2 separate regions of the Homo sapiens genome follow, and region 1 is linked to region 2. Evidence: fine-mapped expression QTL. Tissue or cell type: ovary. Region 2 holds a variant in brackets; the other region holds the start of a gene. All regions are shown on one strand. Distances are from middle to middle.

Region 1 (8,104 bases), 140 kb after region 2:
CTCTTAACTTTCTTCTTCTTTTTTCTTTTTTTTTTATTTTGAGATGGAGTCTCACTCTGTCACCAGGCTGGAGTGCAGTGGCGCGATCTCAGCTCACTGCGACCTCTGCCTCCTGGGTTCAAGCGATTCTCCTGCCTCAGCCTCCCAAGTAGCTGGGATTACAGGCGCATGTCATCACGCCCAGCTAATTTTTGTATTTTTAGTAGAGGTGGGTTTCAGCATGTTGGCCAGGATGGTCTTGATTTCTTGACCTCGTGATCCGCCCCCCTTGGCCTCCCAAAGTGCTGGGATTACAGACATAAGCCACTGCGCCCGGCCTGTCTTCCTCTAATGAAAACTAGGCTGTTGCCTCTGGGTTCTGTTTCCCTTGCAGATCTCCCAAAGTAAGAGCTATTTTTCTTCCCACAGCTTAAAGCCTGGGAATAGAATAGATGCCCAACTTGTTTCCCCTTGCTGCTTCCAAATTGCTTCTTCCTCTTCTTCCTTTAAAAACCATAGCTCCTGGCCAGGCGCTGTGGCTCATGCCTGTAATCCCAGCACTTTGGGAGGCTGAGGTGGGTGCATAACAAGGATCGAGACCATCCTGGCTAACATAGTGAAACCCCATCTCTACTAAAAATACAACAAAAAAATTAGCCGGGCGTGGTGGCGGGCACCTGTGGTCCCTGCTACTTGGGAGGCTGAGGCAGGAGAATGGCGTGAAGCCAGGAGGCGGAGCTTGTAGTGAGCCGAGATTGCACCACTGCACTCCAGCCTGGGCAACAGAGCAAGACTCCATCTCAAAAATAAATAAATAAATAAATAAATAAATAAAAATTTTTAAACAATTAAAAAAAAACACAGCTCCTTAGAAGAGCATGTCATCTGGCTGCCCATTACTTCTTCTGTTCCTGTCACCTTCCAACCTTGTAGTAACTCCACATTCATTAAAGATTTTAACACTTGGATCACTATTTCCCACCTCATTTCTGTCCTCATACATGGGAACTTCAACATAATGTTGTGACCTAGGTTTCCATTGTGGCTTCTTACAACTTCACATGAGCACTCTCACTAATGCCATCTTCTCCTAGACTTCATTTACTATAGATGGGCTGATGATTTCCTATTGTTTCTAGCCCAAACATCTCTTCTGAGCTCCAGGCCCATATATCCAACTGGATATTTCTACTTGGATATTTCATGGAACTTCAAATTCAGCTAGTCAAAATCTGAACTCTTCATCTTTCTCACAAACCTGATTCTTCTATTCTTAAAATCATGTTATATAGAATTAATGTCTACCATTTACCCAAGCTAGAATTTGGTGGCGGAGGGCGGGGGGGAGTGTGGTCATTCCAGACCCCTCTGTATTTCTTAGAGACCACATCCCATTAGTCACCTCCTCCCTAAGCTGCATCTATAGTCCAGGAGTCCAGAGGTTTTCTGACTAAACCTCCCCAGACAGTAAACCTGGTAGCTAAGAGGGCAAATTCTTGAGTAAGCATGCCTGTGTTCAAATCATAGCATCCAGTTTATACTGTGTAATTGTTGGCAAGTAAATTATGTTTTCTGGGGCTCCATTTTCTTACCTGTGAAATGGGTATATAATAATATTGCTTACCTCTTGAAGTTATTGGGAGGAATAATTATGATATGTAAGATGCCTAAAACATAATTAGTACTCTAACTTTTAGTGATGTTAATAACATCAATGATAATAATGCCCGAGTGAAGCCAGCAGTGGCACCCATCTGGCTGCATGAATCAAGGAAAGAGATTCAGAAGATATCCATTGCTTTAAAAAAATCAAACAATTTTTTTTTAGAGACAGGGTCTCACTCTGTCACCCTGGCTGGAGTGGGTGCCCCTACTGGCTTCATTCAGGCATTATTATCATCTTATATATCATAATTAATTGTGGTTTCACACAATCATAGCTCACTGCAGCCTCAAACTCTTGGGCTCAAGTGATCTTCCCACCTCAGCTTCCTGAGTAGTTGGGACTACAGGTGCACACCACCATGCCTGGTTAATTTTTTACATTTTTTTGGTAGAGATTAGGGCTCTCCCTATGTTGCCCAGGCTGGCCTTGAACTCTTGGCCTCAAGCCATCCTCCAGCCTTGGCCTCCCAAAGCCCTGGGATTATAGGTGTGAGCCACTGTGCCCAGTCTCAACTGCTTTTTAATCAGATTTCCAGCCAATCCTTCATTCAGACCCACTCTGCACCCTTGGCTTTAAAGGAACCCAGTACCTCCAATTCTTAAGAGCATGGGTTCTGAGGGGCAAATTAGTTCACTCCTTACAGGCTTTCAGTCCACAGGCATTTAACTTTTTATGCTCTACACCTGCACTGTCTACTGTGGGCGCCAACGAGCCACACTATCGTGCTGATAAAATTTGAAATATTTTTGCTATCTTGGTTTAAAATATTATTAAAATAAATTTTACTTATTTTTACTTTTTAAATGTGGCTACTGGAAAAATTTAAATTACATATGTGGCTGGTATTATGTGTCTATTGGACAGTGTTGTGTGCGTCTTACAAAATTGACATTTCTCATCTGCTGTCATGTTTTCTATCATTGCATTTAGTCTTGTAGTTTATATACTTTATTTCTTTATTTTCCTTTTTGGGCACTGTCCCAGGAAAGCAAAGATAAATGCATATGTTACATCTGTCATGTTTAACTGGAAGTTCTACCTAAGCTTTTCACAATGTAGCTCCTGCTTATATTTGTGCACTTCGTGTCCTGTCACTACTCTATGGCCCTGCCAAAATGAATTACCAATAGCTTTCTGAACACACCAGGAAGCTTCCAGATTTGCCTTTATTTTTTTGGCCTCCTTTTTCCGGAATACCTTTCTAACCCCTCCCACCTGTCTGCCTATAAGTTACTCATTTTTCAACAGCTAACTCAATTTCACCTTCTCAAAGGGGCTTTTCTTGACTTTTCCTCGTACCAGTTGAGAAGACTGCTCGGGGATCCAGAATATTTCCTGCATTTTTTTTGTTTGGATAATTATCTGTCCTACAAAGGGAATCCATTTTATTCATCAGACCCTGTAGTGCCAAGTTGAGGGTCTAATACATAGTAAAAACTAAAATAATGTTAAATGAACGAATGAAGAGAGTAACAAAGAACGGTGGGATTGTAGAGAAAGGAGAGGCTGACTGAAAACGTTTCGAGAGAGCAGTGTTTTTAAGCTGTTCTTCAGAGAAGTTTTTGACAACTGGAGATGGTGTCAGGAATTTTCCAGGCAGTGGGAACAGGACAAGCAAAGCTTCCCTGAAGACAAGCAATATGCTAAAGAAATAGCAAATCATCCAGTTTGGAAGGAGCATTGGTAAGACCAGATCATGCAGGGCGTTGAGGTTATAGAAAGGAGTTTAACTATTGTTCTGAAGATAATGGAGAGTTAAAAGGTTTAAGCTGGAGAGAAAGAGAATTAGTCTTGTGTTTTAGCATTATCACCTGTGGCTGCAGACGGATAATGAATGCGAGGGGCATGAGTGGAAGCTGGAAGACAGCGAGATCATGGAGATGAGGAGAAACTGGATGTTGTGATCTACGGGTGGGTGGGGGGCAGTGGTGGTAAGTGGGGATAGAGATCCGGGCACGACCGCCGGATGTGTAGGCGGTAGAATGCACAGGACTCAGTAAAAGATGAACATGGGGAGTGAGGGAGGAGTTTTTAGTTAGTATGAACGGGAAGGCGAGGGTACCATTTACAGCGACGGGTAACCACGCGGGAGGAGCAGGTCAACTCCCGACAGTGGAGGTGAAGATGCGTGCGCCTCGCGCACCTTGTCCCTCGCGCGACGCCGTCCGCGCCGCCCGCGGTTCGGTCGGGAGCGGCAGCCCGTGCTCCGGTTCCGGTTCCGGTTCCGGCTGGCGTCTGCACCTGCGACCACCGTGAGCAGTCATGGCGTACTCCACAGTGCAGAGAGTCGCTCTGGCTTCTGGGCTTGTCCTGGCTCTGTCGCTGCTGCTGCCCAAGGCCTTCCTGTCCCGCGGGAAGCGGCAGGAGCCGCCGCCGACACCTGAAGGTAAGAGCAGGCCAGCTCCCTCTGAGCTTCCCGGCGCCGAAGAGTACGGAGAACGCTGCTTGAGGGAGGGGTGACTCTGAGAGTCTGCAGCCTTCACCGAAATATCCACCAAACTGACTGGAGAGGGCGGGCGAGACGGCGTTGAAGGGCCAATGCCCACGGTTCCGTTGTTATCAGCGGGTGGCGGCCCAGATGGTTCTGCTGCTGGAAGGGTCAGGAACGTATGCATGCAGGTCTGTGCATCCTCTAGGTGGCCTTGCGTACTCCCGTTTAGGCGCAGTCCCTTCTCTCTTACCCCGCTGGCTTAACTCATCTCGTCACCATTTGTTCACGTGCTTTGAGTCAAGGGTTCCCAGTTGGGTTTCCCTCTTTAGGTTTTCCGTGTACTTTCTGACGCGCCGCTTGGTACGAAATCAAGGCAAATGGAATTGGTACAGCAAACCTTAAGTCGTTATGTTTTTTCAACTTGGTGCTGGGCGCTCACTGCTTCAGGCTCTTCTTGTGCCTTTAAAAATATATCTTGAAGATTTTAATAACCCCAGTTTCAGTTACTGAGGTGGTTATGAACAAATTATTACGTTCCCCTTATTGAAACAGTATTTATCTGTTAATTCTTCGTTGTTGGCATGATGTATGTGGTGTTTAAAAATTCATCCTCTTAGCTGCACTGGGGCCTTTTACAGAATGAGTGTAAAGGCACGGTGCTGAAGGCTGGGAGAAGGAACCAGAACAGTTTTCTATAGGTCATGAAGTTCTACTGGTAACTTTCTCCTGTAAATTATCCTTGTAATATCTTTGAGACATGATTTTACGGTGTCTGAACACTTCCAGTAATGTTTAAACTGTTGATTGCTGGACAGCTCCTTTTGAACTGTAATCCACTTCCGTCTGCTTTATGCACATTGACTGTAGTTCCATTCTCTTGAGCATCATACACACTATAAATGCAAAGCACCAAGCTTTAGGGGTGGAGGGCAGGTTGAACACATAATTCTGTTTACAGAATTTGCCTGATAATCTTTATGCTTGTAAGACTATCCACTTGGGACGGACTTCTAAAACATCTTTGCGTATTTGTTCTTTTTTTTTCCTTTCTGTCTTATTGCAATAATCCCAAAGATTTTTACCTGCTTTGTCTAATGATATTGTCTACTTTGAAGAAGAGTCAATTCATGATGATCCTGAACAGTGAAGATTCTTCGAAAACTTTTTTTTTTTTTTTTTTACTTTCCATTATGGTGAATTATCTTGAACAAGTACTATTGACTGTGAGTGGGAGACACTCTTCTGAACGTTGTAGAAAATGTAGAGTGGAGATTAGACATGGGTTGTTCCCTTGAGAACTCAAGTGTTGGTATTCAGTGTTCTCATGTTAGGATCTTTGTACCTTCAGTTCTCTTTATTCCTGAAGTGCTGTGCTTTTCCCTCAGTGCCCTTCTCATCATTCAAATTTCTGCTCAAATGAAACCTCCTCAGAGAGACTTCCCCTGATGACACTAACTAAAATAACTCTTTTCTCCCATCATTCTCTATTTTATCATGTTTTATATTCTTCATGATAGGCATCACTATATGATATGGAATATTCTTAAGTGTTTACTTGTTTGTTTTTTTGTCTTCACCTTCTAGAATGTAAGTTTGCAAGGGTAGGGACTTTGTCTTGTTTACCACTGTTTCTTCAGTACCTGGCATATAATGGGCAGTCAATAAATACTTTAAGATTATTAAGCTACCAATACTGTAAATTCTGTTTTTGACAAGGAGAAGCTACTGAAGTAGTATAACCTAGGAAAAAACTTACCTTGAATGGTACATTCCAGTAACTGAAACTTGCAGCAAAAAATCTTAACCATTTTGGGGTTACATACACCATTGAGAATCTTATAAAAGCTATGTATTTTCTTTCTTTCTCTCTCCTTCCTCCCTCTGTCCCTCCCTCCCTCCTTTCCTCTCTTCCTGGCCCCCTTTCCCTTTCTCTTTCCCTTTCCCTGGGTCTCACTCTGTCACCCAGGCTGGAGTGCAGAGTCATGATCACAGCTCACTGCAGCCTCTACTTCTAGGGCTCAACTGATCCTCCCACCTCAGCCTCCCAAGTAACTGGGACTACAGGCACATGCCACCATGCCTGGCTAATTAAAAAAAATTTTTTTTGTTTTTGGTTGAGATGGGGGTCTCATTGTATTGTCCAGGCTGGTGTCGAACTCGTGGGTTCAAGTGATCCTTCTGCCTCAGCCTTCCAAAGTGCTGGGATTACAGGCTTGAGCAACTGCACTCAGCCTAAAACTGTATGTTCTCTCTAGAAAAAGGTACATACTCTTATTGTACTCAGAATTTCAGTATCAATTCAGAGAATTCTCAGAACCCAGAAATCCCTGCTTTGAAGAAAGGAATAACCCTGAGTATTTGAAAATTCTTAAAAATACATGTTGTTATGTCTTCCATTTTTGCCCATTGATGTGCATGAAACAAGCACAGTTCCCTTTCCACATGAAAGCCTTTAAGATAGTCTTTTAACAAATATTTATGATGTACCATATCACATACTGTGCACATAGTGTATAGACACTATGTATTCCAAGAAAAAATGAGCGAACTCCATGCTTTGAGGCGGCCACAGTTTAGTAAAGGAAAGTAGACATGTCAACAGATAAATGCAAAACAGACATGTTAGCAGATAAATGCAAGAGTGTCAGTCACAGTTACTCAAGTCTGCGCAGGGAACAATGGAGACATGTATGCAATGGTCAGTGTTATTGGGACTTAAGAAGGGTTTCATAAACCAGGTGTGACAGCTCATGCCTGTAATCCCAGCATTTTGAAAGGCTGTGGTGGAAGGATTGCTTGAGCCTGGGAGTTCGAGACCAGCTTGGGCCACATAACAAGACCCCCATCTCTACAAAATAAGTTTGTTTTTTTTCAATTAGCTGGGCATGGTGGTGTGCACCTGTAGCCCCAGCTACTCTGTAGGCTGAGGTGGGAGGATCGTTTGAAGTTTGGAGGTCAAGGCTACAGTGAGGTGTGATTGTGTAACTGCACTGCAGCCTGGGCAACACAGTGAGACTCTGCCAAAAAAAAAAACAAAACAAAACAAAAAAAAAACCCCAAAAAACAGGTTTCATAGAACATAGAGGAGGGAAGTCTTTTTTTTTTTTGATAACAGCTTTCTTGAGATCTAATTTATATATCATACAATTCACCCACTTAAAGTGTACAATTTATTGGGTTTCAGCATATTCAGAGTTGTACAACCATCACTACAACCAATTTTAGAATATTTCTTCAGCCCCCAAAGAAACCCTGTACTTTTTAGCTATTACTCCACAAATCCCCCAGCCCACCTCCAGCCCTAGGCAACCACTCATCTACTTTATGTCTCTATAGATTTGCCTGTTCTGGACATTTGGTATAAATGAAATCATATAATATCTGATCTTTTGTGACTGACGTCTTTTAACTAGCATAATGTTTTCAAGGTTCATCCATGTTGTAGCATGTAGCAGTACTTTTTTTATGGCTGAATAATATTTCATTGTGTGGATATACCACATTTCATTTATTCATTAATCAATTGATGGACATTGAATTTTTGCCTTTTAGCTATTATGAATAATGTTGCTACTGATATCTGTGTACAAATTTTTGTGTAGACTTAATGTTTTCATTTCTCTTGAGTGTATACATTTGGAAAATGTGAGCATTCCAGTGTGGCTGGAACTAAGCGTGGAATTTCTAGGTTGTATGGTTATTACATGTTTAACCTTTTGAGGAACTGCCAGACCATTTTCCAAAGCAGCTGTACCATTTTACATGACCACCAGCAGTGTAAGAGGGCTTCTGGTTTCTTGTCAATACTTGTTTGTTATCTGTCTTCTTGATGATAGCCATCCTAGTAGGAATGAAATGGTATCTCATTGTGATTTTATTTGCATTTCCCTGATGACTAATGACATTGAGCATTTTTTGTGTGTTTATTCACTCTTTGTCTATTTGTATATCTTGTTTTGGAGAAATGTCTATTCAGGTCCTTTTAACCCTCTTTAAAAGTCAGATTACTTGTCTTTTTTTTTTTTTTT
Region 2 (8,104 bases):
AGGCATGCTATGGGACATGGTGCCACCTCTCCCCAGGGGTGTGGCTACCTGGCTCCCAGTGGCTGCCTCAGTGGCAGGGTGTCTCTGTGGGGGTCACCACATTCCTGTGCTCTGCCTTTTCTCTGCCCAGCCAAGAGGGTCTGATTGGGCTTCCTAAGTCTGGCCTTTTGGGCACTGGAAGTGACCTGCTCAGCTGGAGCCCCACCTTCCCTCTGGGTGCCCTCCCAGCTCACATGCTCCCTGTGGTGGGGAACTCTCTCCCTCCAGAGATGCCTCTCTGGCTGTTGGAAGCCTTTCCCGGGACACCCCCACTGCACCCAGGGAGGACCCTGACCACGAGGCCCATCCCCGCGGCTCCCCTGCAGCTGCTCTTCCGTGTGGTGCTTCTGCAGGGGGCTCTGGCCCCCTCCCTGTGGGAGTCCTGTCTCCTGGTGCCCTGGGGTCCCCACTGGAGAGTATTTCCCTGCCGACAATGTCCCAGGCTTGTGCTCTCCTGTGAGTACAGCCTAGACAGGGGCTGAGTTGGGCCCCCACCCCCAGAGCCTGACCCTGGGGGACTTTAGCTAATTGTGGGCCCCGCTTTCTGGGCCTGGGGACACCTGTGGGCCTTGGGTTCCCTTTGTCTCACTTAAGAAAGGAGTCACGAGCAGTGGTTCAGAGAGGAACAATAAGCCTTTATTGCGGCTGCCCTTCTCCACAAACGCTCAACCTGCTGGCCAGCGGAGAGCCGTGCTGGCAAATTAAAAGTCTCTAAACTTTCTTTATGTCTCCTTGGATGCTCCAGCAGCTTTAACGCTGAACTGGCTGGCCTGGCTGAGAGACAAAGAGGCCAAGCTGGGGTCACGGCCAAGGCCGTAGGACAGGGAGGATCTCACTGAATGGTCCCCCACTGGCCCGTGGATGCAGATGGGGCGGGGTGGGGTGGAGCAGGTGAGGGTCTTGGCTGTGGTGCTAGGGGTCTGGGGCCCATAGGCTTGGGAAGGCCTCTTGGGGCAGTTGGCTGGACAGGGGTATGGGGTGCTGCTTCCTAAGTCTCCATTGTCTATGGATGGCAGACATGGAGGCTCCTCTAGCTGCCTCTGAAGTCCTCTCTTAAGGAAAGCACAGCCTGAAACCAGGGGCAAAGGAAGCCTGTTCTAGACCCCAGAGAGCATTAGCTCCCTTACCACCACTCTCCTGGGTGAGTCCTGAGACTGGGAGGTCACTAGAAGAGGCTGGAGGACCAGGTCTGTGCTACCACAGATGAGCACACTGCCCCTGCCACCTCCCACCAAAAACTTTGGCTCACCAGGGCCGGGTTGAGAAGGTGAGGCTGGGACAGCCCCTGTTAACCCTTGTGGTCCCGGCATTATCCACAGCACCTCTCTTCACCCTCCAGAGTGCCAGGGTTTCTTGTTGTGTGCCAGCTGGGTGCTGGGCCATGCCATCTTTGCAGGACAGCTGAGTTACAGCATCAGCAGGGAGTCACCTGGGCCAAGAAATGTCACCCCTCACCCCACAAAAAACGTGCCAGGATTTGCAGAATAGAGAGGAACTCTGTGGGGGTGTACTGACTTGGAGGGGGCATAAAGGAGCCTTCTGGAATGCTTGAAGTGACCGAGACCTTGATCTGGGTGGTGATTCCATGGGTGAGCACATACATAACAAGCCATCGACTCGCACGCTCTGCTGTATGTATATTGGACATTACGGTGATGAAAAGCAAATAGACATAGGCCCTGCCCTGAAGTACGAATGAATCCCAGCTCTCCTACTTCCCAGCTGGATGACTTTGGGCATGTCACCCAACATCTCTGAGGCTCTGGTCTTCATCTACAAATGGGGAGAACATCACCTACTTCTTTCCCACTAACCTGAGCCCTCCATGAGAACAGAGACTGCACCTGACTCTCCTCTGTGTCCTCCTTGACCCCTGCGAAGGGGCTGGCTCAAGAAATTGCCGATATAATAAGAGCCTCCTCCAGGTCAGAGGGACCTCACAGCTCCCCAGGAAAACATCTCACCTTATTTTACCAAAATCCTAGTAATAACATCTCTCTTGGTGCCTCCTCACATCCCTCCAACTACTCTTCCATAAGGGGCTTGGGGTTACCTCTTTCTTCCTTGGAGAAGTGGGGGAAAAACTAGGGGACTGAGGCTGCGGCAGGGCCTGGAGCCCTTGGGGGTGTTGGGCCAGCAGGGCTTGGTTTGGAGAGGGGCCAGAGAGGGGTTTGCTTTCCTTGGCAGGGGACGGATGGGGTAGAAGAGTGTACCTAGGACAAGGGCCCAGCAGTGAGACCTTTGCTGGGACTGATTCTCTGGGACAAAAGAGGACTTGGGTTTAGGTCATGGCTGAGGAGGATGTTTCCAGCACTGTGCACACCCGGGACATGGCCCCTGCCCGCCAGCACACCCCGTGTCTCCCAGGCCCCATCAGGCTGGACGGCCCAGGCTCCTCTTGGGGGAAGGGCCCCTGCCCTCCATCCCTCTATCTGATTGTCTGCGAGGCTAGTTCTTGGCAATTTCTTGCTCCGTTTCTTTAATCCCGGATTCTCTTCAAGCGCAGAAGGAAGAGGAAAAAGCCAAAGGCCGAGGTGGAGAATAGGGAGGGGGATGTGGGGGATATGGGGGAGGTATGAAAAGAGATGAAGGAGGTCACTCCAGCCTGAGGCACCCAGGTTTCATCCTAATGGGGACAGCAAGTGCCCTTGAGGGTCCAGAAGGGAGCTGGAGCCCCAGGCTGGGGCTGCGTCAGTCCTGCTCTTCAGCCTCTCTAGTGCTGGGAGGTCGGTGTAAATGGTTTGTGTGCTGACACTGCAGGGCTACAGTCATTTCTATAGGCCAAGAACAGAGCCCTGGGGTGAAGGTACTGGCACCTCACCTTAGTTCAGCAACCTCCTAGGCCCTGTGCTGAGACTCAGGCAAGACTCGGGCCAGGGCTCAGACACAGGCTAGGCCAGTGCTGAGGCGTGCAGGCTCCGGAATAGCATCTTCCCCACTGGCTGCTGAGAGCTGGGGGCCCAGGAGGGGCAGGGAGGGCCCTGAGAGGTCAGCTGAGCCAGCACACCTGCGCTCCTCCCGTGCCTTGCCCTGCCTCCCCGCTCAGGCCTCAGAAGCCTTTCTGCTTCCAGAGAAGCAGGGGCGGTGAGGGTCTGTGGCACAAGGGCGAGCCCTGGAGAATGGGGCTTGTGTGGCGTCTGCAGCTTCTTAGAGGAAAAACCTATTGAGAAGCTCAAATCATGGCAGTAATTAGGCTACTTATTTTGTAAAAGTCCAAATTAAATGGAAAATCTGGTGCTAATGAGAATGTTCCATTTTCTCCTTTTATTAAATCTAGCTCTG[TGC/C]CTTCTAAGAGTTTGGGAATAGCCAGCCCCTGATGTCTTTCTCACAGCCAGTTCATATCCTCTGATTGTGGAGTTGCTGAGACAGAACACACTCACAGGGCCTCCAGTTACCGGCTCAGTTGAAAAATGTCCTTCATAAGGCAGCAGCATTAACCCACCCCCAGCCACCCACACCTCCAGCCCTTCCCCCCATCTCCACCAACCCTCTCTGGCCTATCACCATCAGCTGCGTGGGCCCCCAGAAACCCAGACCCAACAGGGAGGGGCTGGTGTGGGTCCAGGAAAGCTGGGCTTCTGGTCTACCCCTTCTGGAGCCCAGCTTCTTCTCTAAAGAGCCTGGGACCCTACCACTTCCAGCTGCCTGCCTCCTGACAACAGTCCCAGGGAGGCTGAAGCCCACAACCTTCTGATTAGACTTGCACTTAGATCCCATAATTACCAATTAGGGGCTTCAGGCAATGCAGTTTGCCTCTCTGGGCTTCAGGTCCTCACCTGTCAATTGGGGGTAGTGCTACTATTAGCCTCGTAGAGTGTTGTGAGTGTGAGTGGAGAGAAGGCATTGCAGAGCACCTGACACACAGCAGGGTGCAGCACCTGTCTATGGCCAGGTCCCTCTGAAGCCTAGTCTCTAGCGAGAGTAGGGATATGCATTCTGTCACTCTAGTCTTTCCAGGATTTCCTCTGGAAGGTTTGGCGGGGGTGGGAAGGGAGGAACTAGAGGAGGAGAATGTCTTGGGATACACCCCCATGCCAGAGTAGGTATTGGGAGGAACAGCCTATCTGGTCCTGGCCAGTAGGATGCCTGGGCTTGGGAACCTGGCTGTCAAGGATAGGGAGGTCAGGGGGTGTATGCGAAAAATCATCCCATTCAAACAAAGAGATAGGAACAGACACATAGACAGACACACACACACAGGCTCAGTCCCAGCCCTCTTCAATGGGGCTGTCGAGGCCTTGGCAATGGGTCCTCAAGGAGACCTGCAGCTTGAAGCATAAGCCACACTTAGAATCTGCATTTCAATTCAATTCCCGGTTAGTCTACCCATAAGGGTTTACCAAGAACCTCAAGCGTTTCTAACACGAGGCTAGAAGCTGGGGAGAGAGCAAAGCCACAGCCACCACAGAATAGGCCCATCAGACTCAGGCTCCTCGTCTTGGTGATGCACATCCTCACCTGAAACTCAGATGTGAAACGTGACTGTCGCTTGACTCTTCTCCCTTCATCATCCCGTCCTTCATTACCCCCATCTATGGTGTCGACTTCTTTCTTAGTTTCCTACCTGATCATGCCCTGATCCCTGCCCCACAAGGCTTCCCTTCCTGCTATCTCATTTCAGCCTCCTCACCAGGATTATTGTAACAGTCTTAGCACTCCAGCCCTCTCTCCTGCAGGCCCCAGAGGGAGCCTCCTAAAATGAGCATTTGAATTTGTCACCCTCTGCTTCAATCTCTCCAATCACTGTAAAGCCTCTGTTATGTTCAGCATAAAATAAAACTTGGTTGTCCACGCATTCTGCATCTCTGTCACCTCCCCAGCCTACTTCTTTTCTGATCATGTCCCCCTTCAGCCCACTCCCCAGTCACACCAAAGAGCCTGTGGTTTCTCAAATGCTAAGTGACCTCTCATACTGCAGGTGGACTCCAGTTGCCTTTGCCTTCTTAGGATTTTTTCTCACTTCTGGGAACAGAATCCTTCTCTCATGTGAGGAGCCAGTTCTATGTGGTTTGGATAAGATGGGCAGGTGATCTAGTCTGTGATCTAGAACAACAAGAACACCTTATTCTTCTAGGGACAATGATTAATGTAGGAATGTGGACATGGCCCAAACAGGACCTGTTAGAATCTTCTCTGGGAATTTTGGCTTGAACTTACAAAAGAGAGCACCACTTACTTGTAATGGTAAGCCAACAGGAAGTGAGTCTGAGGTTTTTGAGGACCATCTGATTCACTGTGTAGAGAAAGTCTATCTGATAGATATAGAAAGAGATAGAGGCCAGGCACAGTGGCTCACACCTGTAATCCCAGCACTTTGGGTGGCCAAGGCAGGAGGATCGCTTGAGCCCAGGAGTTCAAGACCAGCCTGGGCAACATGCTGAGACCCCCATCTCTATTTTCTAAAATTAAAAAAAAAAGAGATTAAAGCTGGCAATTAATTAAGCTTCTGGATCCAGTCTTGCCTGAAGTCATATCACATGGACTGTTCACTTATGTAAATCTTTTTTAACTTTTTTTTTTTTTGGTCTAAGCTAGTTTGAAATCTTGACTAAGACAAGGCTGAATTGATCTACAGTTGATGTTCACACTGATGGCAATTCTCATCTCCCTTGTCTTATTGGAAAATAAGTCAAATCATTTTAAAATTCATTTCAACTCTCAACTCCTTTAAGAAGTCTCTTTTTCAACAACATGATTGTGATGTGATACCCCTACTCCACAGCTTAATTCCTACTGTGGCAATTACCATTTCTGCAACCAAATATGATCATTTTGATGGGAGGACTCCTGTCTAATTCAACTCTATATTCTCTGTACCCAGCACATGACCAGACACCAGGCAGAGGATAGAAAATACGATTCCATTAACATAAAGATGAAAAACAGTCAAAACTCATCAACACTGTTTAGGAACACATACACAAGTGGTAAAACAGTAAGAACAAAGCACAAAAATGAGTACCCTAAAGATAGGGCGAGGGATGATTAGATTCTCATAGAAGTTTGCAACCTAGATCCCTCACATGCACAGTCCACAATAGGGTTCGAGATCCCGTGAGACTCTAATGCCGCGCTGATCTGACAGGAGGCAGAGCTCACTGGCAGTAATGCTCACTGGCCCACCGCTCACCTCCTGCCGTGCGGCCTGGTTCCTAACAGACCACAGACTGGTACTGGACCATGGCCTAGGGGTTGGGGACCTCTGCCCTAAGAGTCAGAGTGGTGGATACCTCTTCCTAGGGAACAGGAAGAGAATACAGCTGGAAAGGGGTATACATAAGGTTTCTGAGATCCTGGAAATGTACTGAGTTTTGTTGTTGTTGTTGTTGAGACAGTGCCTCGCTCTGTCACCCAGGCTGGAGGTGCGGTGGCATGATCTCGGCTCACTGCAAGCTCCACCTCCTGGGTTCACGCCATTCTCCTGCCTCAGCCTCCCGAGTAGCTGGGACTACAGGCACCCGCCACCACACCTGGCTAATTTTTTTTTTTTTTTGTATTTTTAGTATAGACGGGGTTTCACTGTGTTAGCCAGGATAGTCTCGATCTCCTGACCTCGTGACCCACCCATCTCAGCCTCCCAAAGTGCTGGGATTACAGGCGTGAGCCACTGCGCCCGGCCAAAATGTACTGTTTTTTAATCTGGGTGACAGTTACATAGATGTTTACGGTATATTTCTTTAAATTCTGTGTATTAACATATTCTTTTATACATATTATATAGTTCACTACAATAAAGAAAATAAGTGAGGTGCTTTGGACCCAATTTTTTAAATTGTTTTATAACTTTATTGCACTGAAGTCATAGAATCTGTCACTAATATATCAAATTTTTATTATCTGTTAACGCTTCCTTTGTGTCCTATTATATAGTCAGTTTTTATTTATTTATTTATCTATTTATTTTGAGATGGAGTCTCACTCTGTCGCCCAGACTGGAGTACAGTGGCACGATCTTGGCTCATTGCAACCTCTGTCTCCCGTGTTCGAGAGATTCTCCTGCCTCAGCCTCCCAAGTAACTAGGATTACAGGCCCCTGCCACCATGGCCATCTAATTTTTTTTTTTTTTTTTAGACAGAGTCTTGCTCTTGTTGCCCAGGCTGGAGTGCAGTGGCGCCATCTCGGCTCACTGCAACCTCCACCTCCTGGGTTCAAGCGATTCTCCTGCCTCAGCCTCCGGAGTAGCTGGGATTAGAGGCATGCACCACCATTCTCAACTAATTTTGTATTTTTAATAGAGACCAGGCTTCTCCATGTTGCCCAGGCTGGTCTCAAACTCCCGACCTCAGGTGATCCGCCCACCTCAGCCTCCCAAAGTGCTGGGATTACAGGCATGAGCCACCGCGCCTGGCAAGTTTTTAAATGTTCCACTTGAAAACGAAGTGTACTCTTTAATTATTGGAAACAAGATTTTATATATGGACATCAAACAAATGTTAATAATTTTATCTGTTTCATCAATTTCTGGAAAAGGAGTGTTAAAATTTCTCATTACAAATGTAGGTTTGTCAGTTTCTCCCACAAGTCTGTCAATTTTGCTATGTATTTTGCTTAATATCCTCTGTCAATTTTCCCTGATAATCCTGTCATCTTTAAGGAGGTTATAGTATTATGAGCAATCAGGTTCAGCTTCACTATAGATTTCTATTCAATTGTTCTTCTTGTCAGTGAACAGTCACCCTCTTTAAATCTCAAGTTTTTTAAAACCATGACATCTCTTCTGGTTGCTATTAATGTCACTATATCTCATTTCCTTTGATTATTAGTATTTATGATCTTTCCCTATCCTTCTACTTTTAAGCTTTTTGTATAATTATGTTTTAACTATTAGGTCAGTTATAAACAACTTATAACTGGATTTTAAAAATCTTATCTGGGAATATCTCCGAACAAATGGGTCTAAGTCATTTAAATTTATTGTGATTACTGATAAAATTGGAGTTTTTAATACCACCTTTTAAAATTTTTACCATGTATTTTTCTGTTTCTTCCCCTTTCCTACATTCAATTGGATTTATTGGGTTTTTTTATTACCTTTTTTCTTCTCTCTACAGCTTTGGGTGTTAC

Direction of the effects. Alleles are on the strand shown, and positions count from the first base shown. SD is a standard deviation of normalised expression in the study named.
For the expression in ovary of the gene that starts at base 3,872 in region 1, C is the low allele of the variant in region 2 and TGC is the other (small effect, 0.27 SD a copy in GTEx).

The links. PIP is the estimated chance that this variant, and not a neighbour inherited with it, causes the effect.
Region 1: RIC3 starts here. The variant in region 2 is fine-mapped to the expression of RIC3 in ovary (GTEx, PIP above 0.99).

What each region holds. Positions count from the first base shown.
Region 1 is chr11:8,164,793-8,172,896 of GRCh38, reverse strand. It overlaps RIC3 (RIC3 acetylcholine receptor chaperone), which reads left to right and starts at 3,872. Exons shown (of 6, transcript NM_001206671.4): 1 at 3,872-4,031. The coding sequence starts at 3,908. RIC3-DT (RIC3 divergent transcript) reads right to left here and starts at 3,827. Exons shown (of 5, transcript NR_187234.1): 1 at 3,708-3,827; 2 at 2,909-3,012.
Region 2 is chr11:8,305,862-8,313,965 of GRCh38, reverse strand. No RefSeq gene overlaps it. Among named protein-coding and RNA genes, the nearest start is that of LMO1, 46 kb to the right of the region's middle. The variant TGC/C (reference allele first, on the strand shown) is at 3,322.